Linked DNA regions of Homo sapiens. The protein of the gene in region 7 purifies or fractionates together with the protein of the main gene of each other region. This does not show direct contact. Each region holds a gene or a part of one and is shown on either strand. Other genes may lie near its edges. The genes, in order: KLHDC4, CTNNB1, XPO1, FHL2, PSMC2, MRRF and AHR.

The links.
Region 1: the proteins of AHR (region 7) and KLHDC4 purify together in Homo sapiens (affinity purification with mass spectrometry; one large-scale study listed by BioGRID and IntAct). This does not show direct contact.
Region 2: the proteins of AHR (region 7) and CTNNB1 purify together in Homo sapiens (affinity purification with western blotting; 4 studies listed by BioGRID and IntAct, with this or other methods). This does not show direct contact.
Region 3: the proteins of AHR (region 7) and XPO1 purify together in Homo sapiens (affinity purification with western blotting; 2 studies listed by BioGRID, with this or other methods). This does not show direct contact.
Region 4: the proteins of AHR (region 7) and FHL2 purify together in Homo sapiens (affinity purification with western blotting, with the first as the bait; one study listed by BioGRID). This does not show direct contact.
Region 5: the proteins of AHR (region 7) and PSMC2 purify together in Homo sapiens (affinity purification with mass spectrometry, with the first as the bait; one large-scale study listed by BioGRID). This does not show direct contact.
Region 6: the proteins of AHR (region 7) and MRRF purify together in Homo sapiens (affinity purification with mass spectrometry; one large-scale study listed by BioGRID and IntAct). This does not show direct contact.

The regions. Positions count from the first base shown.
Region 1 is NC_000016.10:87,762,449-87,767,322, reverse strand, and holds the start of KLHDC4 (kelch domain-containing protein 4), read left to right. Parts: upstream 1-1,336; 5' UTR 1,337-1,432; coding exon 1,433-1,531; intron 1,532-2,036; exon of another isoform or gene 2,037-2,257; intron 2,258-4,874.
Region 2 is NC_000003.12:41,227,005-41,231,242, forward strand, and holds part of CTNNB1 (catenin beta-1), read left to right. Parts: intron 1-203; coding exon 204-348; intron 349-4,238. UniProt on the Homo sapiens protein: Key downstream component of the canonical Wnt signaling pathway.
Region 3 is NC_000002.12:61,531,631-61,535,868, reverse strand, and holds part of XPO1 (exportin-1), read left to right. Parts: intron 1-1,190; exon of another isoform or gene 1,191-1,446; intron 1,447-1,965; 5' UTR 1,966-1,971; coding exon 1,972-2,097; intron 2,098-4,238. UniProt on the Homo sapiens protein: Mediates the nuclear export of cellular proteins (cargos) bearing a leucine-rich nuclear export signal (NES) and of RNAs.
Region 4 is NC_000002.12:105,381,619-105,385,856, forward strand, and holds part of FHL2 (four and a half LIM domains protein 2), read right to left. Parts: exon of another isoform or gene 2,493-4,238; intron 162-2,492; exon of another isoform or gene 80-161; intron 1-79. UniProt on the Homo sapiens protein: May function as a molecular transmitter linking various signaling pathways to transcriptional regulation. Negatively regulates the transcriptional repressor E4F1 and may function in cell growth.
Region 5 is NC_000007.14:103,364,361-103,367,724, reverse strand, and holds part of PSMC2 (26S proteasome regulatory subunit 7), read right to left. Parts: intron 1,650-3,364; coding exon 1,562-1,649; intron 313-1,561; coding exon 110-312; intron 13-109; coding exon 1-12. UniProt on the Homo sapiens protein: Component of the 26S proteasome, a multiprotein complex involved in the ATP-dependent degradation of ubiquitinated proteins.
Region 6 is NC_000009.12:122,270,931-122,275,168, forward strand, and holds part of MRRF (ribosome-recycling factor, mitochondrial isoform 1 precursor), read left to right. Parts: coding exon 1-145; intron 146-4,238. UniProt on the Homo sapiens protein: Responsible for the disassembly of ribosomes from messenger RNA at the termination of mitochondrial protein biosynthesis. Acts in collaboration with GFM2. Promotes mitochondrial ribosome recycling by dissolution of intersubunit contacts.
Region 7 is NC_000007.14:17,305,014-17,309,251, forward strand, and holds part of AHR (aryl hydrocarbon receptor), read left to right. Parts: intron 1-4,238. UniProt on the Homo sapiens protein: Ligand-activated transcription factor that enables cells to adapt to changing conditions by sensing compounds from the environment, diet, microbiome and cellular metabolism, and which plays important roles in development, immunity and cancer.

The DNA.
Region 1 (4,874 bases), on a different chromosome or scaffold from region 7:
AATTGAGTACCCTTTCAGGGTGCTATCATTAGCTCTAGCCTACCTATGAAGAAACAAAAGTCCTCCATGTTAGGACATTTGAGGACATGCCCTTAGTACCTAACAGTGTCTGGCACATTTTAAATGGGAAGGTGGAAGGGCCCCCCCATTTTTTTTTTTTTTTAAGATGGAATTTTGCTCTTTTGCCCAAGCTGGAGTGAAGTGGCTTGATCTCAGCTCATTGCAACCTCTGCCCCCTGGGTTCAAGCAATTCTCCTGCCTCAGCCTCCCAAGTAGCTGGGATTACAGGTGCCCACCACCACGCCTGGCTAATTTTTGTAGTTTTAGTAGAGACGGGGGTTTCACCATGTTGGCTAGGCTGGTCTCGAACTCCTGACCTCGTGATCCACTCACCTCGGCCTCCCAAAGTGCTGGGATTACAGGCGTGAGCCACCGCGCCCGGCAGGGACTGTCTTACTCAGGATCTGCAAAATCTTATAACTGTGTGAAATTTTTTTTCTGGGAAAAAAGCACTCATTTGTTTGGTCTGAGGGGAAAAAATGGGGCTAGCCCAAGAGTCGCCCACTTAGTTCTACCCAGGGCGAAGCAATGTGCCTTAACGGGGGGCACGTGCACCCCGGAAAACTCAAGAGAAAATGAGCCGGGCGTGGTGGGCTCCTGTGGTCCCAGCTACTCCAGAGGCGGAGGTTACAGCGAGCCGAGATCGCGCTACCGCACTCCAGCCTGGGCGACAGAGCAAGACCCTGCCTCAAAAAAATAGAAATAAAAAATAAAACTCAGAGGGCACGTCTCCTAGGACACGGGGACAGGCTAGGTGGGGGCACAGGGCGTGAGAATTGGCGAGCATGGCCGGGGTATGTCAGGCCGGGGCTGCCATCTTTTTTGTTTTTTGAAACAGGATCTCGCTCTGTCGCCCAGGTTGGGGTGCAGGGGCGCATTGCTGCCTGGAACTCCTTGACTCAAGCGATCTTCCCGCCTCACCTTCCCGAGGAGCTAGGACCACTGGGCGCGAGACACCACGCCCGGTTAATTTTTTTTTTTTTCTTCTGTAGCGACTGGGGGTGGGGGGTGGTGTCTCGCTTTGTTGCCCAGGCTGATCTCGAACTCCTGGACTCAAGCGATCCGCCCGCCAAGGCCTCCCAAAGCTCCAGGGTTACAGGCATGAGCCACCGCGCCCAGCCCGGGGCCGGTCATCTTTTCCGGGGCCTTATGCAGAGTCCGAGGCCCCCGAGCCCGCTGCCGAAGACGGAGCTCCAAGACCGAACCTCGTAAAGGGCCCAGCCGCACCTCTACCCGGAAGCGGCTCGAACTCGGGGCCGGAAGTGACTCCATTTCTGTGCGCCGAGCTCCGCCCCACGAGCACCTGTTTCCGAGCGGAGAGCGCGGGCCGTTTTCTTTCCTGGTGTCCCGTCGCGGCTTGGGACCCGGCAAGATGGGCAAGAAGGGCAAGAAGGAGAAGAAGGGCCGCGGCGCGGAGAAGACGGCCGCCAAGATGGAGAAGAAGGTGTCTAAGCGCTCGCGGAAGGAGGAGGTGAGCGGGTCAGACCGGGCTTAGCGGCCCGACGTCGCGGCCGTGCAGCCTCGGCCGACTCCCTGCGCCCCCCGGGGTTACGGGTCGGCCGTGGGAGCCGCGCCGGCCCTGCGGGAGAGCTGGAGGCCGTAGGAACTGCCCCGGCGCCGCGTCCGGGCAGCCCAGACGGGGCCCGCCCCCTCCTGAGTCTCCACGTGTGTCTGTCCGCTTCTCGGAGCTGCCCCCTTTAACGTGCTTGCTTTTCTTAGTGTGGTGTCACGGGCGTTTTTCTGCGTTTCCTCCCCCTCCTCCCTTCTCCCTCCACCCTCCCTCTGAAGGGAGGCTGGGTGGTGAGAAGAGGGAGGGGTTTGGCACAGGAAGACCTGAGGTTGAGCCGGGGGCTGCCTCTGCATGATGTGTGGTCTGGGAGTAAGACTCTTAACTTTTCTGAACCTTACTTTTCTTTCAAAAGAGGGCAAATAATCATCACAGCAGCCCTGAGCAGTGAGCAGCAGATGGTTAAGTGAAGAAGGCACTGGAGCCACGGGGTATCCCGTAGCAGCTGATGGCGGCCATCACGGTTGTCTCCTTCCCTCTGGTCCTCAGCCCGGGGTCTGCAGGAGGATCCGTCCTGACCTTGGGGTTGAGTGTTCTGCGGCTGCTGCTCATGGATTCCCTAACCGGGGCCAGTTTTATGGCCTGCCGTGCGCCAGGCACAGCTCCCTGGGCTTTACTCCTCACGAGCAGGTCAGTTCCGTAGCACTGGTATTCCCATTTGACAGGAAGACCAACAGGTGAACCATGAAGTGGTATGGAACTGGGATGTGACCAGATGTCCTGAATCAGGAGCTCTTGACCACAGTCCTTTGTCCCTTTTCTTCCTAAGTCATTGATCTCTCCATGTCCTCATCTCTTAAATAATGGAGTTGGACTTTTCCCTCACACTCCTCTTAGGCTCTTTCTTTTTTTTTTTTTTTTTTTTGACAGAGTCTTGCTCTGTCACCTAGGCTGGGCTGCAGTGGCATGACCTGCTGGCTAGGGTTGTGGCACAGGAAGTCAGTTCATCTGTGTGGTATCTTCAGAATGGTGCTTGGCAGAAAGTAAGCACTCAGTAACCAGCTGTTAGCTGCTTTCTGCTTTTTTTTTTTTTTTTTTTTTTTTTTTTTGAAGGAGTTTCACTCTTGTTGCCCAGGGTGGAGTGCAATGGTGCGATCTCAGCTCACTGCACCTCCGCCTCCCAGGTTCAAGTGGTTCTCCTGCCTCAGCCTCCCAAGTAGCTGAGATTACAGGCATGCACCACCACACCCAGCTAATTTTGTATTTTTAATAGAGACCGGGTTTCACCGTTTTGGTCAGGCTGGTCTGGGACTCCTGACCTCAGGTGATGCGCTCGCCTCGGCCTCCCAAAGTGCTGGGATTACAAGCCGTAAGCCACCTTGCCCCGCCAGTTACCTGTCATTTTTACTCATCTCCATGTCTCCCTCCAGTACCCAATACTAAGGTGATTGTAACAGTAGCTTCCCTTAAGAGAGAGAGCCTGTCAGGCCTGGGGTTTGTATGTTATCTGAATGAACCCTCAAAACAAACTTTTAAAATAAGTGGGCGTCTGATTAGGCTAGACCCACAGAGGATCATCTCTTTCTTAAATTCAGCTGTGTCTGTAATACAACCTAATCACAAGAGTGGTATCCCATTCTTTCACAGTCCTGGCAATTATTGGGGGAAGGATTGGGGACAGTTTGGAATTCTGCTCCCACAGAACTCATGTATCAGGTCACCTGGTTCGCACCTTCACTTAGTCCTGGCCTCTGCCTGTCTTTCCAGCTGTCTCCCTGGGCTCACTCCAGCCACAGTGTCTTTTAGTGTCTCAAACATGGCAAGTTGTGTCTGTGGTCTTACCTATACCCCAACCATACTCCGTCTGAGTCGTCTTTTCAGCATTCAGCTTATTGTCACTTTGGAGAGGCTGTCACTGGCTAGGCCACTGGCGTCACCCAGACCCTACCACCTTGCTCTCCTTCAGTCACCCAATGATGATGAGGTTCAGCCAAGGTCAAAGACCGCTCTAAGTAGCAGCAGCAAAGCTTTCGCGGTACATAGACGTTAGTATTTGAACTGTTTGTTTAACCTCGTTGAGCAAAAAAAGCAAGTTGAAAGAATATACAGTATGATACCATTTAATGACATTTTATTTTTTATTTTTTTTGAGATGGAGTCCTGCTCTGTCACCCAGAGCAAGTGTCGCAGTGGCATGATCTCAGCTCATTGCAACCTCTGCCTCCCAGGCTCAAGCAATTCTCCTGCCTCAGCCTCCCGAGTAGTTTGGGACTACAGGTGTGCGCCACTGTGGCCGGCTAATTTTTGTATTTTTTAGTAGAGACGGGGTTTCACCGTGTTGGTCAGGCTGGTCTCGAACTCCTGACCTCAAATTATCCACCTGCCTCGGCCTCCCAAAGTTCGGGGATTACAGGCGTGAGCCACTGTGCCCAGTCCATTTAATGACATTTAAAAATGTAAAACAATACTATATGTTGCTTAGGGATACACATGTGTAATAAAAGATTGAAGAAAAGCGTGAGACTAATAAGCATCGAGTTCCAGATAGTGGTTACTTGAGGGAATGTGTGGGTGGGTACATGTGGGTGACACTTTATTCCTTACCCTGGGAACCGTATACAGGAATGTCTTGGATAAAGTTCTGTTAACTTGTGTGTTTTAAATATTGCATCGTTTAGAATACTAAGCAGTGTACCCTGCTGACATTCACCCTGAGATGAGAGGTAGACTGAAGGAAGCACGAGGTGGGGCGTGGCAGGCTGAGGGAACCTGGCGTTTTCATTGAAGGAACGGAGAGGACGCTGGTGTATCTTGGAGAGTGAGGCCAGGTGGGAGGTGAGGTTGGAGAGGTGGGTGTGGGGGAGGGAAGATGGTCTGCAGGTGTGTGTAGTTGCAAGCAGGACACTGAAGGCTAGAAGGAACTTGAAATGCCAGGCTCGGGTGTGCATGGGAGTGTCTCGTAAATGTTGGGAAATGGGCACTGGGACTGAGGCGGGAACACTGGGTTCCAGTGCTGCCCTCTGTGCTGGCACATCAGTACCTTGAGTCACTCTCGATGGTAGTAAAAGTTGAGACCTTCTTACTTGGATAGACTGCAGCTGGTATTTGCTGAGCTCTTGCTGTGCAGGCAGTGTTTTAACTAGACACAAGTCTTGCTCTGGTGGAGCTCATATTTTATTATTTTGTTGGGGTGGAGGAAACAAATAAGCAAGAGAAATATATCAGACACTGCTCAGCAGACAGGAAGGCAGGCAGGCGTGACGGCCCAGGCCTGGGCTCTGAGAGGTGCTGAGGGTGTCTGCAGTGA
Region 2 (4,238 bases), on a different chromosome or scaffold from region 7:
GAATTTGAGTGGAATGCTTTAAAAGGACAAGTTGGATAGGGCCCCAGTATGGGGGTCTGAGTGATGGGGTCCAGGAATACATTTAGGTCCAATGGCAAGCTGGCTGAAATTCTTGTATAATAAAATAGGTTGGTAATATGGCTCTTCTCAGACATGTGATCAAGATTCCTTGACTAACAAGATATATATATATATCTTTCTAGCTCATCATACTGGCTAGTGGTGGACCCCAAGCTTTAGTAAATATAATGAGGACCTATACTTACGAAAAACTACTGTGGACCACAAGCAGAGTGCTGAAGGTGCTATCTGTCTGCTCTAGTAATAAGCCGGCTATTGTAGAAGCTGGTAAGTATATGTATCTATTCTGAGTCTTGTGTATAGCATCTGCAGTTCTAATTAGATTACTTTTCTTAGGAAAAGGTGGTAGAACTTTAACTACTGAAAATAAATGGTCCTATTCAGTTTGCAGCCAAGATTTACATTCAGAGTACCTGTCATCTGGATTGTAGCTAAATATTTAAGGCTAGTTTAGGTAGAGTTCTTATTATCCATCAAAAATGATGGCATATGTTTTGCTTAATAAAATTTGTTTGTAATTTCAGTTTTGAGTAAACCTAAGATTTGCTAACAGAGCTGTGAATTTATAGGAGAAAAGACAAATTCTAATATAGTACAGTTTTATGTAAAGTGATTGCTTTATTAGTAGATGCTCATGAGCAGTTTTTGTTTTGTTTTAACTTTTAGGTTCCGGGTAATGTGCAGGCTTGTTATATAGGTAAATTGCATGTCACAGGGGTTTCGTGTGCAGATTATTTTGTCACCCAGGCAGTAAGTATTGTACCCAATAGGTAGTTTTTCAGTTCTTTACCTCCCACCCGTAAGTAGGCCCCAGTGTCTGTTGTTCCCTTCTTTGTGCCCGTGTGTACTCAGTGTTTACCTCCCACTTATAAGTGAGAACATGTGGTATTTGGTTTTCTATTCCTATGTTAGTTTGCTTAGGATAATGGCCTCCAGCTCCATCCATGTTGCTGAGGAAGACATCTTGGTATTTTTTTATGGCTGCTTAGTATTCCATAGTATATATGTACCACATTTTCTTTATCTAGTCTACCATTGATGGGCATTTAGGTTAATTCCATATCTTTGCTATTGTGAATAATGCTGCAGTGAACATATGCATGCATGTGTCTTTATGGTAAAAAGATTTCTTTTTCTTTGGGCATATACCTAATAATAGGATTGCTGGATTGAATGGTAATTCTGTCAGGTTTTTTGAGAAATCACCAAATTGCTTTCCACAATGGCTGAACTAATTTACTTTCCCACCAGCAGTGTATAAGCATTCTCTTTTCTCAGCAACCTCACCAGCATCTGTCATTTTTTGACTTTTTATTAGTAGCCATTCTAACTGGTGTGAGACGGTATCTCATTGTGGTTTTGATTTGCATTTCTCTAATGATCAGTGATGTCGAGCTTTTCTTCATATGTTTCTTGGCCACTTGTATGTCTTCTTTTGAAAAGTGTCTGTTCATGTCCTTTGCCCACTTTTTAATGGGGTTGTTCTTTTTTGCTTGTTAATTTAAGTTTATTGTAAACTCTGGATATTAGACCTTTGTCAGATGCATAGTTTGCCAGTACTTTCTCCCATGCCAGTACTTTCTCCCATTCTGTAGGTTGTCTGTTTACTCTGTTGATTTCTTTTGCTGCGCAGAAGCTCTTTATACTGTCCCATTTGTCAGTTTTTGTTTTTGTTGCAACTTCTCTTGGCATCTTCGTCATGAAATCTTTGCCAGGTCTTATGTCCAGAATGGTATTTCCTAGGTTATCTTGCAGAGTTTTTACAGTTTTAAGTTTTATATTTAAGTCTTTAATCCATTCTGAGTTGATTTTTGTACATCATGTAAGGATGGGGTGCAGTTTCAATCTTGGATGTGGCTAGCCAGTTATCCCAGCACCATTTATTGAATAGGGAGTCCTTTCCCCATTGCTTGTTTTTGTTTACTTGTTAGGTGTGCGGCCTAACTTCTGGGCTTTCTTTTCTGTTCCATTGGTCTCTGTGTCTGTTTGTATACCAGTACCATGCTGTGATTGTAACCTTGTATTAACAGTATAGCTTGAAGTTGGGTAAAGTGATTCCTCCAGTTTTGTTCTTTTTGCTTAGGATTGCCTTGGCTATTCAGGCTCTTTTTTGGGTTCATATGAATTTTTAAATAGTTTTTTTTTAATTATGTGAAGAATGCCATTGGTAGTTTGGTAGGAATAGCATTGAATCTGTGAATTGCTTTGGGCTGTATGGCCATTTTAACAATATTGATTCTTCCTGCCATGAAATAGAATGTTTTTTCATTTGTTGGTGTCATCTCTGATTTCTTTGAGCAGTGTTTTTTGTAATTCTCATTGTAGAGATCTTTCACCTCCCTGGTTAGTTGTATTCCTAGGTATTTTATTCTTTTTGTGGCTTTGGTAAATGGGATTGCATTCTTGATTTGGCTTGCAGCTTGGATGTTGTTGGTGTCTAGAAATGCTTCTGACTTTTGTACATTGATTTTTATATCCTGAAACTTTGCTGAAGTTTATTGGATCAAGGAGCTTTTGGGCAGAGATTATGGGGTTTTCTAGGTATAGAATCATATTGTTTGCAAACAGACTTCCTATTTGGATGCATTTTCTTTCTCTTGCCTGATTATGAGCAGTGTTTTGCCCTGATATTCTGTATTCTCAGTGAATAGATGTCGTCTAAGTATGAGAAACAATTTTTTTCTATTCTGAGTATTTTTAAGAAGGCAACTTATATGTGGTACTTTGTATATTGTGTATGTTGGCAATTGGGGAAAAGAATAGATGGTTTGTACTAGGGCCTCTTGGGTTCTGTGTGTGTGTGTGTGTGTGTGTGTGTGTGTCATGAAAACAGTTACTTTTTAGCTACCAAGCATTTTTTCTCCTTTCAGTAACCCACCTAACAACATTTACTCAGAATTTCAAAGCAAGCTTCAAATCAGTATTGAAAGAAGGAAAAATATAAAGGCATTTAATGGAAGAAAATGTTGGGAATAAAGTATAGGGCTGGCAACACTTACTTTTCTCACTTATTGAGAGTAATTTTACTTGGGAATTTATGAGAGAGAAAGACATTATGATTGCTCCAGGTAACTACTGGCAGAGGAACCATAGTCTTGGGGATAGACAAATGTGGCTGAGTTCATATAGAATGAGGGGATGGGATGTAAATTCTGTCAGCTGTTCCAGCAGTAACCTGTAATGTAGGCTAAAAATACAGATTTTGAGATTTATTTAATCAGAATCCCTGGAGTGTTAATTTTTATATCAAGATCTCATAGTGTTTTATTTGAAGTGACAGGGAGGTCTGTAGATAGCTGGACATGTATGGGACTGGAAGCTTAGGAATCTTTAAGTTCTTCCAGGTTATTCTTATGTTCATTTGTTTATTCTGAAAATAGCATCTAATGTATTTTAAGAAATGGAATAGGCACATAGTATACATTGGGTAACACAACAGATAGGGTCCCCGTGCTTAATTCTTAGTCTTGTGAAGGTGACAAAAATACTTAAAAATATGTGATCCTAAATTAGAATGAGTGTTATGGGAGAAATGACAGCAAATAGTGATGAGAATTAATGGGGAGGGGAATTGTCTAGATGAGAGGGAAAAGGTCTCCTTGAAAAGGGGATGTTAAGTGGGACTGCAGGATGAGAGGGAACCGTCTCTTGTCTATATGAGAAGTGAGGGTTAAACGTTTTCCAGGTAGAGAAAAGGAACACCATGTGCTATGTCTTAGAACCAGGGATATCCAGTCTTTTGGCTTCCCTGGGCCACATTGGAAGAAGAATAATTGTCTTGGGCTACACACCAAATACACTAATGATAGCTGATGAGCTAAAACAAAAAAAAATTGCAAAAGAATCTCATAATGTTTAAGAAAGTTTACGAATTTGTGTTGGGCTACATTCAGAGCTGTCCTAGGCCATGTGGCCCATGGGCTGCAGGTTGGACAAGCTTGCCTTAGAAGGAAAGAGATTGGTCAGGCACGGTGGCTCACGCCTGTAATTCCAGCACTTTGGGAGGCTGAGGTGGGCGGATCATGAGGTCAGGAGATCGAGACCAGCCTGGCTAACACAGTGAAACCCCATCTCTACTAAAAATACAAAAAGTTAGCCGGGCGTGGTGGCAGGCGCCTGTAGTCCCAGCTACTTGGGAGGCTGAGGCAGGAGAATGG
Region 3 (4,238 bases), on a different chromosome or scaffold from region 7:
TGGAGGAGAGTTTACACATTCATTTGTGGAATATATATTTCCTCTCAGTATTTAGATCTTAAGGTTTTTTTGTGGTGTGTAACAAGTATTCTGCTGTTTAAAAACGTTTGTTTAATGCCTACTACGAAACGTTTTGAAGTCTCATCAGTTTTGTCAATAATGGACCAATTCTTGAACTCCTAATTTCTTGAGTTTTACATTATTTTTACATCATATCAATCATAGGTGACTCATCTTTTGGAGTTCTAATCTGTTGTAACAGACGTTATATTTAAATAAGACAATTGCATTAAAATAGAATTTGCTGCCATTATTGTTATGGACATTTTTAAGCTGTTATAAAATAGCCAGGAATTAATGACTTTTTTTCCGCCCTGCCAAGCTAGTTTGTCTAAATATAATGTAAAGAAATTAGCTACTCATTTTCTGGTCCACGAAAGTTCCTAAAATGGGAAGAAGTGGAGATCTGACCTTGTTAGTTCTAAATACACTAAACTGGGAGTGCCATGGATGGCTTTCAGGATGTCCTGAATCCTCTATAATTGTATACAAAATCGTGAGTTTTTAAAAACTGGGTTAGAGCTATTGGTTCCTCAGAGTCTCAGGCATCTTAGACCCCCAAAAAGGTTAAGGACTACTGACTTAACCAATTAGGTTTGAGTGGCATTGGCTTTGAAGAAAAGCAGAGGAAAGATATATTTTATAATTCTGGGCAACAAAAAAGTGGATGTGTGCCAGCATCTTAGAGTAGAATCCTCTTAAAAGGATAGCACTGCATATGAACTAGTAGGTTTTAACCAGTGCATATTTAGGCGAAGTAGCTCATTTTTCTGTTAGAATTCTTTTTTATTTGGGAATGGGCAAGCTTTTACAGCTTTTACCTTGCCAATGAATACCTGGAATTTAAAAAATCTTGTTAGGCATATTGCCCATAAAGTTTTTTTTCCTAGATCATATATTCAGTAAATATGTTTGTAGCTTTATTTCAATCCCCCAATTCATTGAGGGTTGAAACAATTTGAATGGTTTGAGTGTAGAAGCTAAGTTATTTCTGTAGAGGCTAAGGGCATTTATACCAAGATATGTTAGACTTGTGGTTCCTGCTAACCATTGCTGTAGACAATAGGAATTACTGTATATCCACATTTTAATTTTTAACATCATTCTGTCTTTGTTTGTTTGTTTTTGAGATGGAGTCTCATTCTCTTGCCCAGGCTAGAGTGTGGTGGTGCATCTCGGCTTACTGCAAACTCCGTCTCCTGGGTTCAAGCAGTTCTCCTGCCTCAGCTTCCCAAGTAGCTGGGATTACAGGTGCCCGCCTCCATGCCTGGCTGATTTTTGTATTTTTAGTAGAGACGGGGTTTTGCCATGTTGGCCAGGCTGGTCTGGAACTCCTGACCTCAAGTGATTCGCCCACCTCGGCCTCCCAAAGTGCTGGGATTACAGGTGTGAGCCACCACGCTCGGCCCATTCTGTCTTTATAGCATTATTTTTATAAAGTTAAGATAATGTGAAGTGAGCTTTTACTGAGTTATTCAGAAGACCCTACTTGGGAAGAAAAGAAAATCACATTCACTTGAACTTAATCCTACTTGCTTAAAAAGTTTTGACATCAAGATACTGAACTGTATCACGTTTTAGGACCATAAAATCCTAATAGTGGATGCGTTTAAATAATAGGTTAGCATACTTTATAAATGTTAGTAGAATAGGAAAGTCTTCCTGGTGTATAAACTAAACACTAGAAAAGTTGAATGGACCATAATAATTTATGTAATTATCAAATAGCTAAGTAATTTCAGCTTTTGTTACTTGCTTTTACTATCTCAGTTTTCTGTAATTAAAGTCTCTAAAGTATTCATTAAAATATTTGTAATAACATGGTTGAAGTAAAATAACTTGTAGGAAGTTTTTGATAATACCAAAACTTGATAGGCAGCTTCAATTTTTTTTCTTTATTTTCAGTAATCTATGCCAGCAATTATGACAATGTTAGCAGACCATGCAGCTCGTCAGCTGCTTGATTTCAGCCAAAAACTGGATATCAACTTATTAGATAATGTGGTGAATTGCTTATACCATGGAGAAGGAGCCCAGGTAAAGTAGCCAACCAAAACTTTATAACATTATGACAGTGTAACAGAGTTGTTGGGTTTAGAATAAAATTTTAAATTATCACCTTTAAAAAAGATATTCCATAGTTTGCATTAATTTGGAATTCTGTATTAACCATAATGAAAATTGGTTTGGAGAAAGAAATTGCATGTTTGACATGGTTAGAGTGGGTTGTTTTGGAATATTATACTTGTTTTGTCCTTAAGAGCCAAATGTTATTAAATACTTTGTAGGTATTAAAGGTTCTCTGTACTTTTATATATACTTAATATGTTTGGCACTAATACGATTCTTCTACTTTTAAAACATTTACAGAAGTACTTCACAGATATGTTTGTTTAAATAAAAACAGGAATACCAAGTATTTTTATGTTAGTTGAATTTTGTGCACTTTTCAAAGTGGTACTGTTAATGTAGGGAATTATCTTAAACATAAACCAAATTTTGATCAGTTTAAGATTTTTGGTTTTTTTGAACCCAACTAAAAGGTGAAACAGAAATGTGTGTACAATTTTAAATTGTATATGTCACAAGAAAAAAAACTTGATTTTTTACCTGTGGGGCCAAACTTTTTTTTGAGACAGTCTCGCTCTGTGGTCCAGGCAGGAGTGCAGTGGCGCTATCTCAGCTCACTGCAACCCCTGCCTCCTGGGTTCAAGCGATTGTCTTGCCTCAGCCTCCCTGGTAGCTGGGATTACAGGCACACGCCACCATGCCTGGCTAATTTTTGTATTTTTAGTAGAGATGGGGTTTCACCGTGTTGGCCAGGCTGGTCTTGGAACTCCTGACCTCAGGTGATCCACCTGACTCGGCCTCCCAAAGTGCTGGGATTACAGGCATGAGCCACCGCGTGCTGGCCCAAACATGTTTTTGAATGAGTAAAAAGTTTTGCAGTTGGGTCAGAAATCTTTTTTTTTTTTCAGATGGAGTCTTGCTCTGTCACCAGGCCTGAGTGCAGTGGCACAGTCTCGGCTCACTGCAACCTCTGCCTCCCAGGTTTTCAAGCAATTCACCTGCCTTAGCCTCCCGAGTAGCTGGGACTACAGACGCGCCACCATGCCCAGCTAATTTTTTGTATTTTAGTAGAGATGGGTTTCATCATATTGGCCAGGATGGTCTCCATCTCCTGACCTCGTGATCCGCCTGCCTTGGCCTCCCAAAGTGTGGAGATGACAGGCATGAGCCACCGCGCCTGGCCAGAAATCTTTTATGGTAGTTTTGTTGCCAGAACAGTAGATTTCTGGTTAGATAAATGTTCAGCTAGTAGATGGGAGGTTACTTATATTGTCAAGATATTTATATTTGCATAATTAAGAAACTGAGTGCCGGCCGGGCGCGGTGGCTCACGCCTGTAATCCCAGCACTTTGAGAGGCCGACGCCGGCGGATGACGAGGTCAGGAGATCGAGACCATCCTGGCTAACACGGTGAAACCCCGTCTCTACTAAAAACACAAAAAATTAGCCAGGCGTGGTGGCGGGCGCCTGTAGTCCCAGCTACTCGGGAGGCTGAGGCAGGAGAATGGCGTGAACCCGGGAGGCGGAGCTTGCAGTGAGCCGAGGTTGCGCCACTGCACTCCAGCCTGGGCAACGGCATGAGACTTCGTCTCAAAAATAAAAATAAATAAATAAAATAAAATAAAAAAACCTAAACCTGAGTGCCATTACACTTTCTGAAAATATATAAGGTGGATACAGTACTATCTTTTATAGTAGTCCAAAAAGCATCATGTATAAATGTTTCCATTCCCTTATGAAATGCAACAGTACTGCTTTTACTATAGTAGAAACTTGAAAAAGGTCCATGGAAACGCTAAAAGTAGAAAAAATTACTCTTGCAGTGATTCTGTAAGCTTGTTAGCCCAGGTTTATACTTTTAGGGCGTTTTGATCAGTATATTATCTCCTAAAGCATTCTTGAAAAAATTAACCATCCGTATTTATTATCCCTGTCATTTAGTTGTTACTCATGCTATACATTCAACATGAAGCTTTAAGCTTCATTTCTTCTAGCATGGATGCATAGAAAGCAGCTGCTTTTGGAGGAAGCTATGAAAGTAAGGTTGGGTTCAACTCTGAATGTAATATTGGAAGCACAGGTCTGTAGCCATTGGGAAAAAGGGCAT
Region 4 (4,238 bases), on a different chromosome or scaffold from region 7:
TCCATCCAGACAGCTTTGCTTCTGATCCTAGGACCCTGCTTGATTAAATTCCCTTCACAGACAGATTTTTGTCTTTTAGGAGGAAATCCAAATAAATACGCGTTTTCAGTGCTCGTTACAAACTCTGTGGACAAATTCTACACGGAAGAAGATCCAAGAAGGTAATTTGCTCATTGAGAACTTAAAAACCACCCCAACAAATAAAAAAGCACCAGGTTGGCAGGCTGGACCCTGAGAATGTGACTGGAGTAGGTGCTCTTCCCAGAAAAGGGTCCAGAAAGACCAGCGAGGGAGGCCTGTGTTACACCGAGGACAGAAGGGTGGGTTTTTCAAACCTGACCTTACACCTTTCACTAGGCTTGGTCAGAAACCTTCCAAAATATACTAGGGGCATCTAGATTTAACCTGTATGTGTGAAAACCTTCGTCTCCTATTTCAGAGCCCTGCCAGGTTGCTTTCTGCCAAAATATCACTGAACATTTCTGTCCATTACCAAACATTAACTGAGACTTTTACAGCCAATTTGATCATCACTTCAATGTTTCCTATTAGCTACAAAAGCTGGAAAGAGAGTTTGTGAAACAACTTGAGCCTCAATTCTGCAATGTAATCATCACCATCTAAAGGGGCCCATGAGAAGAGTAGGGGCCTCTGACTGAAGGTCACTTGATTGAGGCCAGGTGGTCACCATCTCTTACTCATAAGGACTGACCACATCTGGCCCGAGAGTCACATAGACAGGGTCCTGCCCGAGGCTGCAGGTAGCAGGTGGCATCACATGCTAGGTGAGGACCCTCCGGGTCTGGGCTCAAATTGTACCTCGGATACTTCCTAATCCCTTTAACCCTTGGCAAGATCCTCATCCTCTCTAGGCCTCAGCGGCTACTCCATAAAATGGAATGAAAAAAGTTCCTACCTATAGGGTGTTAGGAGAAATTTAGATCATGCAGTTTAGGCATTTACAAGTGCCTGGAACAAGTCATCAGGCAATACACAGTGGTTTCAAAGACTACCACTAGAAACTAAACCCTGAATGCTAGTTTCTGATCTGCAGATCTTTTGTTCTTGTTTATTATTTTTTTTTTCTCTTTGTAGCACCCTCCAAGCACATGGGTGGGTATGGTGGCCAGTCCAATTTCATGGCATTGCTTGCAGACCCATGGAACATTCAAAGTCTAGGTTACGTGTGTCGCCCAGGGCTTAAAATCACCAATTTGTTAAATGCACAGTATTAGCAGCTGTCTCTGGAGTTATTGGCCAGCCTATTTTTTATTTTTATTTTTTTAAGATGGAGTCTTGCTCTGTCACCCAGGCTGGAGTACAGTGGCGCAATCTTGGCTCACTGCAACCTCTACCTTCCAGGTTCAAATGATTCTCCTGCCTCAGCCTCCCAAGTAGCTGGGATTACAGGTGCACGCCACCACACCCAGCTTATTTTTGTATTTTTAGTAGAGACGGGGTTTCGCCATGTTGGCCAGGCTGGTCTCCAGCTCCTGGCCTCAAGTGTTCCACCTGCCTCGGCCTCCCAAAGTGCTGGAATTACAGGCGTGGGCCACTGTGCCCAGCCCTATTTTTTCTTTAGTTGGTTGAATTTTTGAAGCCCAGAACGTAGGCAGATCCCCCAAAAACTCTGTAATCAGTCTACGAAAATATTTTGTTAATGCTAACAGGTATCCAAGAAAAGGTTCAGGAAGCATGTAATGTCAGAGGATCATAAAATTGTATTAGCATTGTCTATTCTCCACTATTACACTGGCCATACAAATCAATAATCTTTACCCTTTGAGATCACAGCATTTTCCCAGAGTAACTTAATAGAAATAAAGATTACAATTCAGTGGCTACATAGAGAGGATGTTCAAACTATATAACAGGCTCTGAAGTCTTGCCTGTCTCATTTAAGTAGGTCAGGACTCTCAAAATTAGCCTAATTCCCATAGGCATGCCAACATTTAAAACTCACACACATGAACATGTCCTTTAGAGGGAAGTAGCTGAGGCCTGTGGTGGCTGTGCTATTTTAAGAGAAGAGATTGGCCACCAGACCTAAGAGCACAGTTCCTCTATCAGGTATCTCCCCGCCTGCCAGGATTGTGGGCTTTACTTCCAGAAAAAAACAGGAACATTTTTTTCTATCATTGCTTCCACTACAAACCCAACTACCCGATTATTTTTGAAAGTCAAGAAAAGCACGCCTAAAGCATCAAAAGCCCCAAATGCCAAGGTCTCGCTTCAACTCAATGTCTCTTTTTGTTCCAAAATGTACAAAATCATACAGTGTAACCCCACGTATCTCAAAACATTAATCCGGGTTGAAAAGTTCAGCACAATTCACTCCTGGCTTGACAGCAGCCTTGATGATTTTGGCTCCATTTGGGAGACTCTTGTTTATTTGCTCATAAAACATGCGTGGAAGGATGACGGCTTTTAAGGGTCTTTCCACTAAATCACTGGAGAAACAGCAAGTGATTTTTGTTTTGTTTTTATTTCAGCCACTGGTCAGGGATGATTAGCCCCAAATATCCAAAATCTGTCCTTGAAAGTGAGACTTACCTTTTGCCAGATGATATCTGAACCTCTCACCTACGTAAGTATTTCTTTTCCAGCTAAAGCTTTTATAATTATATTTTTCTCGGGCTATCTACTTCTTCCTCAAACTGGACATTTTTATTGATGTTTCCAAAATGAAAAGCGACAAAGAGAGAGGGTGAAGCTTCTGAAAGGTGTGTGGAAGGGACGTGTCACGAAAAGAATAAGGAAGTAGTCAGCAGAAAGGTGGCAGTCTGGAGCTTACCCTGTCAGCTGCTAGAAGAGTACGAGTGCGAGTGCAAGGGCTTGTATCTACATACTAGAAAGACCCTATGAAGCAGACCCCTGGTTCTCCCCAGTTTTTTTTGGGTCTTTTTTGAGACAGAGTCTTACTCTGTGTCCCAGGCTGGAGTGCAGTGGCATGATCTCGGCTCACTGTAACTTCTGCCTCCCAGGTTCAAGTGATTCTCGTGCCTCAGCCTCTCAAGTAGCTGGGATTACAGATATGCACCACCACGCCCAGCTAATTTTTGTATTTTCAGTAGACACAGGGTTTCGCCATGTTGGCCAGGCTGGTCTCGAACTCCCGGCCTCAATTGATTCACCCGCCTTGGCCTCCCAAAGTGCTGGGATTATAGGCTTTGAGCCTATGCCCCTGGCCTGGTTCTCCCCATTTTATAGATGTGGAGATGTGCACGGAAGGGTCAAGTAACTGACCCAAGGCCACACAGCAAGTGAGACACAGAGCCTGGGCTGGAACTGGGCAGTCTGGTGGCTGAGCTCTCATGCTTGTCCTGTTAAATACATGAAAAGGGACAGAGAAAAGTCGTCAGGTGCAGTGAGACACGCAGCAGGCAAGACAGGATACAGGAAGATACACAACTTTTAGAGTAGCCAGATCAGCTATTTTTGCTTATGGTATTTCAAAGGTTTGGCACAATACCACTGTTGAGTTTCGTTTCTTTTACATTCAGCACAGCATCTGCCCTGAAGCCAAAAGACACAGGGCTGCAGCATTGGTTTAGGGGGCTGGTGCTGTACCTCTTTCGTCTCTGCTCAAGGCAGAGGTCTCTTTCGCTACAAGATGGAAACCATCCCTCAACTGTCACTAAATCCCTGGGAACAGAAAGTGATGGTGCAGCCTTCTGATTCCTGTCTTTCCTAAGAATGATGTGATCAGAGAAGGAAATAGAAGGAACACATGTTGGATGTGCTAGAATGATCCAACTGCATGCATGGCCTAAGTCAATCAGTCAGCGGCAATGTGCTGATATTAACGACCAGGGAGGAGAGCAGCAAAAATCCCTACAGAGCACAAAGCAACGAGAGCAGAAAAGAGATAGTAAAATGCCATGAACTGACTTGGTGCCCATTCAGTTGGGAATTCCTTTAGAGATGCCAAAGGAATCCCATTTTGTAGCCAGTTTCACGGCACTCAGGATGACAGCCACATGAGGGGTTTCACTGGAGTGTTTTAGAAGCCGTTTGCGGGTGAAGGTATCAGAGAGTTCAGAGCTATGGATGGGTCCCCCAGGGTGTCCTTCAGCAATCCAGGTTGGAACAAGAGTCTGCTGAGAAGCGCAGGTCAGGGTTCACCACCCTCAACCACGGGGCAGTTGGTACAAGTGACCAGTGGTCTTTGCTGAACCACGCTGTGACATACCAGGAGAGCCATGAACACATTTCCCCATTGAAAGGAAACAATACAA
Region 5 (3,364 bases), about 86 Mb from region 7:
GTGGGTCCGACCCTAAAAATGAGAAAATTGACAAATATTAAAATGGAAAAAAATCACAGGAAGAAAAAACTTCAAAAATCCCTTTCCTAAAATGAAATGGTTTTCTTACCTCTAGATCGGGCAAGCTAAATTCAATTTTTCTATCCAATCTCCCTGGCCTCATCAGTGCTGGATCCAAAGTATCAGGTCTGTTAGTGGCCATCAGCACTTTAATATTGCCTCTAGGATCAAAACCATCAAGCTGATTGATCAGTTCCAACATTGTTCTCTGCACTTCATTGTCACCTCCAGCACCATCATCAAAACGAGCCCCTGAGAAGACAAAAGGAAAGATAAGCTCTTCAAGTCCACTCAAGAGTAGCACTATGCATGACCTGAAAGTACCAAAAATCTCAGCTCAAATCATGTCCTCAGGCACAAGTGACATCCCACTTTGAAGCAAATCCTGTAAGAACAGCTTGCTTTATATAAAACTAATTAGAAAGTGAATCTTTGCTTTCAAAAGTATTCATCACAGATTTACTTAACGTTTTTTAAACTGCCTATGGGGCAGTTTAGTGTTTTCAAAGTCTACCACATTTATTACTTAATTTGGACCTCTCAAAAACTCATGAAGTACACAAGACAACAATTATTCCCTTTATAAGATGAGCAAACTGAGGCTCAGAGATTAGTTAAAATAACTTGTCCTCAGGAGTTCGAGACCAGCCTGGCCAACATGGTGAAACCACGTCTCTACTAAAAATACAAAAATTAGCCAGGCATGGTGGTAGGCATCTGTAATTGCAGCTACTCAGGAGGCTGAGACATGAGAATTGCTTGAACCCAGGAGGCAGAGGTTGCAGTGAGCCAAGATCATGCCACTGAACTCCAACCTGAGCAACAGAGTGAGACTGTTTCTTAAAACAAAAAAAAAAGTCTAGATTTCATGGCTAATACTGTATTTCATCAAATCTGTGAAGCCAACAAGAACATTATTTTATGTGCACTAAGAAAAACCACCATCAATTAAATTATGCCCCAGTGCTTTCTTATGACATTAGATGATACTTCTCAATTTACGAGTTGTTTAAAGTATGGAAATAGGTGTTGTATGAATGAAATCAGATATAGACTGAGCATCCCAAATTTGCAAATGCAAAATCCAAAATGCTTCAAAATTTGAAAGTTTGAGCACCAACATGACAAAAGCAATACTCATTGGAGCACTTTAGATTTCAGGTTTTCAGATTTGGGATACTCAATCAGTATAATGCAAGTACTTCAAAAGCCAAAATCCAAAATATGTGAATTCCAAAACACTTCTCAAACATTTCGGCTAAGGGATATTCAACCCATAGCACAAAAATAAAGGCTTTGAAAAAATGACAATGGTATATAATGTGTCTTCTTGCCTTTATAGTTTAGCACTACTACTTATTAGATCTGTGGCGCCACTGTTTCAGAGCTCATAGAAGAGTTGGAGTTAAAATTCTGTACAAGATTAACATATCACGACATATCACTTTACAGCTTTCATGAAACTGAATCCTAAAGCAGTTCTCTAACGTATCATTCTCACCTCCAATAGCATCAATTTCATCAAAGAAGATAAGGCAGGCTTTTTTTGTTCTGGCCATTTCAAAGAGTTCACGAACCATTCGAGCCCCCTAATGAGAAAAATGATTTATTAATTCAAAATTGGTTTCAAAATATTTTAAAATAAGTAAAAAGTTATGCTTCAAACTTTTCAATATTTATTCCTAACAGTATTCTCACCCATTATTACCTAAACGTTTTTTATTTTTTTATTTTTTTGAGATGGAGTCTTCCTCTGTCGCCCAGGCTGGAGTGCAGTGGTGCGAGCTCGGCTCACTGCAACCTCTGCCGCCTGGGTTCAAGCGATTCCCCTACCTCAGCCTCCCGGGTAGCTGGGATTACAGGCATGTGTCACCACACCCCGCTAATTTTTGTATTTTTAGTAGAGACGGGGTTTCAGCATCTTGGCCAGGCTGGCATTGAACTCCTGACCTCATGTTCCACCCGTCTCAGCCTCCCAAAGTGCTGGGATTACAGACGTGAGCCACTGCGCGCAGCTATTTTAATTTTATTTTTTGAGACAGAGTTTCACTCTTGTTGCCCAGGCTGGTGTGCAATGGCACGATCTTGGCTCAGTGCAACCTTCGCCTTCTGGGTTCAAGCGATTCTCATGCCTCGGCCTCCCGAGGAGCTGGGATTACAGACATGCGCCACCACACCCGGCTTTTTCTATTTTCAATGGAGACGGGGTTTCTCCATGTTGGTCAGGCTGGTTTCCAACTCCTGACCTTAGGTGATCCGCCTGCCTCTGCCTCCCAAAGTGCTAGGATTACAGGCATGAGCCACCGTGCCTGGCCTATCTAAACTTTTTTTAAAAAAGACTGAAGTTTGCTCCCCAGTCCACCAAATTAATCTTGCCAGCCTTAAAATATTAAGTCATTTTCATGATTCTGTATCTATTAAATAGCAATAGGTTTCAGATCTGAAGAGGTCAAATTAATAGTTAAATAAAGGAACCATTCTAATTAGTAAAACTTGAGTAAATAAAAGCATCTGATCTATCACTTGGAATTCCTGATCATTGAATTTGACTTGCAAGTTTTAGTTAGGGAATAAAAGGATACCTCAACTCACGCAGCTCCGTAGCTAATTCTTATTGTAAATATACGAATCATCAACAGGTTTCAGATACAATACATATAGCCCTAGACTTATTCTCTAAATATATATATATATATATATATATATGTATGTCTACAAACATAAAAACAACCTATGTTCTCACTTTCTCATTAGGACTGAAAACACTGCCCCTGAAGTAAAAGTATACTTTTTAATTAATTTACCAGGCATTTCCGTAGAAAAGCCACATCTGTAGAAAATGTCACCCTTTTGAGGAGGGGGCATACTGGTTAAAATTTTAAGTGGTTGCCTATCTCCAAATGACCACAAAGGCAGCTTCTAAACTACTAATTACAATCAAGAAATTTCAGGTCTCAGGCCGGGCGTGGTGGTTCTTGCCTATACTACCAGCACTCTGGGAGGCCAAAGCAGATGGATCACTTGAGCCCAGGAGTTTGAGACCAGCTGGGCCACATGGTAAAACCCCTCTCTACAAAAAATAGAAAAATTAGCTGGGTGTGGTGGCATGTAGCCATGGTCTCAGCTACCTGAGAGGCTGAGATGGGAGGATCGCCTAAGCCCAGAGAGGTAGAGACTGCAGTGAGCTGAGATCATGTCACTGCACTCCAGCCTGGGCAACACAATGAGACTCTGTCTCAACAAAAGAAAAAAGAAATTTCAGGTCTGGATCCCTCAATGCAGAAGTGCCATTTTTAATTTCATT
Region 6 (4,238 bases), on a different chromosome or scaffold from region 7:
ACCTTTCGCAATTATCTTGCAGCCTCTATCAGACCCGTTTCAGAAGTTACACTGAAGACAGTGCATGAAAGACAACATGGCCATAGGCAATACATGGCCTATTCAGCTGTACCAGTCCGCCATTTTGCTACCAAGAAAGCCAAAGGTAGAGACATGTGACGTTCTCTCCTACTTCACCCCTTTCTTATAGTTGGCCCTTGAATTATAGCTGGCAGGTATCTCAGATGTACTGAATTTCTCCCCTTGCTAACATGAGGAAATGGTGCCTCAGCTATTTCATTGGATTAGCTTAAAAGGTTACAGTGGCAGAGATGGTGTTATAACCCAGTGCCTGTTTTCTCATTACCATGCTGCCTCATTTGTTTTCTTGGTAGCTCAGAAAATGCCTAATTTCTTTCTTTTAGATTTAGAATTAAAGGTTTAAGTGCCAAGCAAGCCAGAATGCTTGTAGCAGGGATCAATATATTGTCTCCTTATAGGAAGATGCATGTTGGAAGTATAATTAAGACCAGAAGGTGGTTGGGTGAAGTGGGTATTAGAGCCATGGATTTAGATGGATGATCTTAATGGCTTGTGTCATCCAGGAATGAGACTCTGATGTACTGCAGGTCTCAGCTTAAATGCTACTTCCTCTGGGAAGCCTTTCCTGACCTCTTAGACTAGGTCAAGTCCCCTGTTGCCTGCACTCGTGCATTCTGTTATTTTGCCTTTGATGCACTTAGAACAGCAGTGATTAATTAATTAAATGTAAGATTGATTATCGTTTATCTGTCTTCTATGCTGGACCTGATGAAGGTAGGTTCTATATTGTTCTTATTTAGCACCTAACAGGGCCTGGATTTAGTATGTATTGACAAATTTTGTTGAATGAAAGAATGAGTGATAGAAAATTGTCAGTCACACCAGCAATTTGCAGTGGTGGATCAGGGAGTCCTCCCCCAAGAATGGCGCTAGATATATGCTGCTGAATATTTTCCCACTGACTTTCCTTTTCTAATTTCATGCAGACCTTCCCCTTTCTGTAATAGGAAAATTAACAAATTACTGGAAGAACAGTAATGCTTAGAAGAGTTATATTCTGTTAATAGTGTTAATAGTAATAACCTTTGATCTGTATGTAGCATTATATTTTTTAAAGTTTCTATACATTTACTAATTTTATTCTTATAATTATCCATTGAAGGAATTATAATTTTCCATTGAAGAAATCCTTATAATTATCTAGTTAATCCAGATCTCACCATTTTATAAACGAAGAAACTGAGATAGTTTGTGAGAAATTTGCCCATGTTCCTATATAGTTAATGGCAGAACCAGAAACTTGAGTTCCTGATGCCTACAGTACTGCAGTCTTCTAGTGTAATAGACAGTTACAGTGCATAAGCAGCATTTTTTCATATTTTGTGGGCTATTCAGTTTTGTCTTCTTTGATTGCCTCTTTAAAAGTTGGTTTAGCCGAGTGCTGTGGCTCACACCTGTAATCCCAGCTACTCAGGAGGCTGAGGTGAGGGGATTGCTTGAGGCCAGGAGTTTGAGATTAGCCTGGGCAATATAATGAGACCTTGCCTCTTAAAAAAAAAAAAAAATTGCTGGGCCTGGTGGCCTGTACCTGTAATCCCAGCTACTCAGGAGGCTGAAGTGGAAGGATGGCTTGAGGTGAGGAGTTTGAGGCTGCAGAAGTTGGTTGTTTGACTTTTTCTTTTAGATTTATTCGATTCTTTCATATTAGGGATGCTCATTCTTTGTCCATATGTTCCAAGTGTCTTCTTTGCTTTTTACTTTATGATGTTTTTGTTGAACATGGGTTTTAATGTCATATTTTTTAGTCCTTTATTAATTGTGTCTTCTTTAAGAAATACCCGTCTATTGCAAGGTAATTTATTTCTGAATATAATGTGAGGTAATTTTTAAAGTTTCCTTTCCAGATGGATAAGAAGTTGTGTCAAAATCATTTATTGATTAGCCTACTCTTTACTCCCAGATTTGTAATGCCCCGCCCCATTGTGTGAGTTTCTGTATATATATGGCATTGTGTCTGAGCTGTTGATTTTATTGAACTGCTTATCTCTCCCTTCAGTAAATTTCATACTGCCTGACTTAGTGTCATAAAGTCCAATTTACTGGTACAGATCTTTCCCCTCACCACACATATGCTTTTCTTTTTGTTCTTGACTTTCTCCTTTTCTATATGAAATTTATGATCATAGTGTCAAGTTTTCTCCAGACAGCTCTTGCACAAGGCCAGGAGTGGTGGCCCACGCCTATAATCCCAGCACTTTGGGAGGCCAAGGTGGTTGGATTGCTTGAGCTCAGGAGTTCCGACCAGCCTGGGCAACATGGGGAAGCCCTGTCTCTACAAAAATTAGCCAGGTGTGGTGGTGCACCCCTGTGGTCCCAGCTACTTGGGAGGCTGAAGTGGGAGCATTGCTTGAGCCCAGTAGGTCAAGGCTACAGTGAGCCATGATGATGCCACTGCCACTCCAGCCTGGGGGACAGTGAGACCCTGTCTCAAAAAAAAAAAAAAAAAAAGATCTTGTACAGTTATTTAATCAGTTCTTTAATCAGGTTTATTTCTGGGGGAATCCTATCTTTTTTTTTTGTCACTTTTATATGTATTAGTTTTTTGAGTTATATATAAGGAAAAGTGTTTACGTAAATCATAAGTTTGTGCTTCAGTGAATTTTCACAAAGTGAACACAATCATGTACTTATTACCCAAATCAATAAATAGACTGTCACTTGTGTTTTCCAAACTTACCACATGTCCCTTTGAGTTGTTACTGTCTCACTGTAAGGATAGATAACCCACTATATTGACTTTAACACCACAGATTAGTTTTGTCCTTTGTGACGTCAGTATGGATTTTGTGTCTGACTTCTGTGGTAATAATCTATTTGTGAGATATGTCCATGTTGTGCACATAATGGTTGTTTGTGCATTTTTATTTTTTTAATGATATTCTACTGAAAGTATATACCACAATTTAATATCCATCCTACAGTTAACAGACATTTGGGTTGTTTCCAGTTTTGAGCTAAAACAAATAATGCTAGTATAAGCATTCTTGTACATGTGTTGTGGTGCACATATGTCCCTTTCCATTCTTCTCCCCTCCTGTCCTATTGCCCTCCCTTCTCCTCTCCTCCCCTCACTGTCATTGGATTGGCTAGGAACTCTAGTGTAATTTGAATAAATGTGACTGGTGATAATAGGCATCTTTGTTTTAGTCCTGACTTTATAGGAAACACTTCTTATATGTTAACCTTAAGAGTTATGTATGTGGAGAAATCATATTACCTGACTTCAAATTATACCACAGAGCTATAGTAACCAAAACAGCATGGTATGGGCATAAAAACAGACACATAGACTGTGTTAGTCTGTTCTCATGCTGCTATGAAGAAAAACCTGAGACTGGGTAATTTATAAAGGAAAAAGATTTAGGCCAGGCACGATGGCTCACGTCTGTAATCCCAGGACTTTGGGAGGCCAAGGTGGGTGGATCACTTGAGGTCAGTAGTTGGAGACCTGCCTGGCCAACATGGCAAAACCCGGCCCCTTGCGTGTTTGATAGAACTTGCCTGTAAAGTAATATGAATCTGGTGTGTGTGTGTGTGTGTGTGTGTGTGTGTGTGTGTGTGTGTAGGTAGACTTTAAATCATAGAATTGGTTCCTTTAATGATTATGAGACTGCTTAGATTTTTCTCTTGATTTAGTAAGTTATATATTTTAGGAAATTTTTCATTTTTTTGACCTTTCAAAGTTGTTGATATAAAGTTGTTCATAATAGTCTCTTATTAAGATTTCTACTATTTTTATAGTCATGTCCATTTTTTCTTTCTTAATATTATTTATCTGCATCTACTTTCTTCTTTTCTTAATTGTTCTTGACAGAAGTTATAAACCTTTTAAAAGAGTCTTTAATTTTTTGATCTCTCTTTTTTGCAATTTTATGATTTCTGTTCTTTATTATTTACTTTCTCCTGTGTACTTGTTCTGTTTCTATCCTCTGAGTTGGACAATTAGTTCATTAATTTTTGGTCTTTCCTGTTTTCTTTTTTTCTTTGAAAAATTTTATTATAAACATGATGCTTTGATATACATGCAGTGATATGGTTACATACATGCAAATTAACATATCCATTATCTTACATAGTTACCTCCTTTTTTTTTTTTTTGCGAAAGCACATAAAATCTGTCTTAGCAAAAAATCCAGAGTATAATACAATATTACTAA
Region 7 (4,238 bases):
CCTGCTAATGTCTTGTGCTAGAAACTATGCTGTTTATATCTCATCATCTCTCCTCAGGTATAGCAAACAAAAGGGAAAGGAAAGAACTCATCACAATTATAGGGCAGCAGCAGGAGGGTGGCAGAAGACTTCTGACTCATTAAAAGTGGCTTCCAGCCAGAATTCTCAGAAGTTTTTGTAGATGTTTTTGACTCATATAGGGAAATAAAATATCCAGCTGTGTTCAGCCTGACAATGAAGTTGGGGTCTATTTGTGCTATGTGTCACCTCCATTACATTAAGCACATAGTTTATGATTGTAAATATTTGAAATTTATATTCAGAGATAAATACGGATGCACTGAAGCTGGGGGAAGGAAATGAAGAATGAATGGGGTTAAGAGTTGGGCTTTATTGGGTGTAGGTAGTATGGTAGGGGGATTTTATTGAGGAATACTTCAGATTTCCTAGCTGTTAGATGGAGAGTAGCACCATAGTGCTGAGAAGCGGGTGCCCAACTCCAGGGGAATGTTGAATGGAAGGGCACAGGGTCAGGTACAGGGACTGGAAATAAAGATAAACAAGTTATGGGTAAGTAGACCAACGCAGTAAGAGTAGATTAAATCACCCCGAGGAAAAATCCGATAGAGCAAACTCAGTACTGTGAGAGGCAATCTCTTGTTAAAAAACGTCACTTTGATCTCATAGGATTACTGAAACCATATCTTTGCATGTCATTTTGAGGTTTTATAATGAATATTATATAAAACAGTTATATTTATGAGTAAACTTGGTTAATTTTTTCAGCTTTGCTTCAAACACTGGCTACAAATGATGAACCTCATAGACTTTTTTGATGGAGATGTTAAAAAGGCTTTCAAGATAGCATTCAGACTGGCATTGGGCATACTGTTGGGCCTGTTACCACCAGCAGTTAAAGCTTGCAGGGCTTCTAAACAGAAGCATGGCATGCAGTCAGCTGGAGTCTTGATTTCATAACAATTTTACAGATTGGGACAAGATTTTTGAGGTAAAGGTTTCAAAAAATAATAAGTTACTCCTTTGCCTGACCAACATCATACGGTCTATTTCAGGAGATGTTTGAACTCCAGAGCTCCCAAATCCAATCTTACAGGGATGTTTATTTATATTTCAAACAGGCTTTTCCTTAAATAATGGTTAGCAGTGTCCTTTCTTAAAGATTCGAAGACAATACAAAAGTAAAAATATTAGCGTAATCCAAGTCAAGTGCAGTTAATGTAAGATTACTCTATTTTTAATTGTTCTGTATATCTTCAAGATGTATGGATAGATATTAAATATTTTAACAAAATCTGTACATTTCTCACAAAATCAGTGAAAAAGTGGGTCAAATGCATTACCTTTGTTAGCTTTAACAATCTGACATTTTAAAAGCTTCAAATCCAGTACATCTGAATTGTTAAGTTCTGAGGGTACTTCTTAGCCCTGACCTTAATTCCTCTGTGTATTTGACTTTCTTCCTCTGTGTATTTGACTTTCTTCTATGACCTCCAAAATATTCTACCCTGGTTTTTTTCCGTCTATCATTTCTTCTCTGTGTCTATGCCTCTTCCATAGCCCTATACCTAAATGTTGGTATTACTGAGGTCTATCCTCAAGCCACTTTTTTCCTTTTCTGGTACAGCTCTCATTAGGAAATGTAGTTGTTCTTCTGAGCTACAAATCGCAGAACCATTTGCAACCTCTCCTCACTCAATGGTTTCCTCTTCCTTACTTCCTATAGTGAGTTAGTTTAGTTCAGTGAACATTTGAGTCTGGCTTAAATCTCTCTTCAAGCCAGTCCTTTCTTAACCTCACTGTCACTGCCTTTGGTCAGGTTGTGATCATTCCTTTTCTTGGCACTTTTGGTCAGCAAACATTAATTGAGAATCCACTCTATTATGCTGGGCATTAAGGATACAAAAATGATTTAAGCTTACATAGAAATAAGGGTGTTAGGCAAACAAGTATAAGCAATTATGTTACTTGACAATGGAAATTTGCTCTCATGTTAAATATTTTGTAAGACACATAGTAATGCATTAGAAATGTAGACAATTTTGCATTATGAAAAGCAAGCCTCAGAATCTAGTGTGAGGCTGAATATTGCAAAGAGCCAGCACAAGACAGGCAGCAGTACCACATGGAGGGATACCTTTATGTTACTATTAGTTCTCCCTGTGTCATAGCATGTTGCCTTGTTTCAGCGTTTGTGTCACTCTCTTCTCTCCAGTGTTTCATAATCATTACTGGAAAGCCACCAAGAGTGCAGGACTGGATTGTGTACACACTTTCTATTTCTGTGAAGTTGTTTGTATGGAATATTCCTTAATGGAATCATTATATTAGACATTTGTATAAGAAGTCAAATGGGGCAGAGTTGCTAATCCATTGTGAGGTAGGTCAGGGAGGACTTCATGAAAGTGATCTACTTGAGCGGGGACTTGAAACCAATGGGACATAACAAGGAGGTTGTATGAAAGCACTAAACCACATGTTGTAACTGTAAGTAATTTCTTAGCTCTGGGGTAGAATAGACAAAAGCGGCTTCAATAGAAGAAATGAAGCCAGAGGGGTAAATGAAGCTAGAAAGATCATGAAGGATTTTGTGTGCTAAGCTAAGGAACATGGACAGTTCAGAGCTACTGAAGGAGTTTAATCAGAGGAGTGACACAGTCAGATTTATGTTTTAGAAAGAAGTTCCTGGCATCCCGGAATCCTAACTTCAGCGAACCCTGCCCTGCTTTCTGTATACTCTATCACCAGAGTCAGCTTGGTGAAACACAGGCTGATCTTGTAAATCTCAGCTCAACACTTAAGAACAGATGCCTAAGTCCGATTTCTATCGTTACTTTGCTGTCTCCTCTATCTTGAACATTTTTGCATCAGACACCCACATAGCTCACTTCATTTTACTCATGTCTGTCCTGAAACATCACATCAGAGAGACCTTCCTAGGCTGTCCAAACCAGCATCACGTCTGTCACCCCTTAGTTTCTTACCTTGCTTTATTTTTCTTCTTAGCACTCACCGCCCTAAAAGTTATATGTTTATTTGTTTATTTCTCCATCCTCCACCTAGGATGTAAGCTCCATGACAACAGGAGCTTTTGTATATTTTGTTTACCTGTAAGTGTTCTGTGCTGGGCACTTGATAGGTGTTCAGCATTTGTTGAAAGAATGTGGCCCCAACCATCCTTCTTCTTTTCTCTCTTTCACCCTGTGCCTCTCCCTTCATGTGGGGGAATTCTTACAGTTCACTAATCCTTAGTTATGCCTCTTCATGAAATCCTGTCCCTCACTCAAGATCCATCTCAGATACCACCTTTTCTGTAAAATCTTTTTTCAAGCAGTTGCTGCTTCTGCTTAGCTCCCATAACACTTTTTGAATAGTTAGGAGAAAAGTGTTTACCTGGGCTGTACAGGATGTGATGGATATAAATAAATACTTGTCAGCAAGTTATTAATTAACCAGTAGAGAATTACACAATGAGGTAGACAAGCATTATAGGTAAAGTTTGAAATTCAGTTGGTTAAGTGGAGAAGTGAAGTAATTAGGTGTGACTTGAAATTTGTTTATAAATGCAATATGATTAGGGGAAAATAGCTAGGGGAACCATCACCAATTTCTATTATATACACAGTTGTACAGACAACCTGGAGAAGGTATCTGTTGATACATACATAAACACACACACACACACACACACACACACACATCATTTTACCGATGTATTACCTTTTTTGTAGAAGTATTTACTTTTCATCTTCTTTCTGCCTAAAGTATTACTTCTCCACATACATCACTGAAAAGAAATTATCTAGAAATGTTTTGATTGGGTCATATTAATAGCACTATGCCCAGGCCAATTTCTACTTTACAAAAGCTGATATAATTCCATTTGAATTGTCAAAAATGTCTTTGTTGTAAGAAAACGCTAGATAATTACTCTTCTGGCTAACAGGAAGGTATAGAGGTATAAGGTATAAATTACTTTAGTTTCCCAGTTCAGCGTGGGTATCTGATGATTTTTAAATTCACTTTAAGTGATTAATGTCTGCTGTGAAATCCTGGCTGGGGTCTTTGTGTGAAGTTATTCAACTTTTCTTTTCTGAACTCATGTTCCTCTTTGACCCATAAGTGTCTTTATTCTCAGGTGAAAATCATGCTAAATTGTTTAGGGTTCCGTTGAACTTTCTAATTGAGACACAAGCTACGAAAGCTAATAATTAAGTATA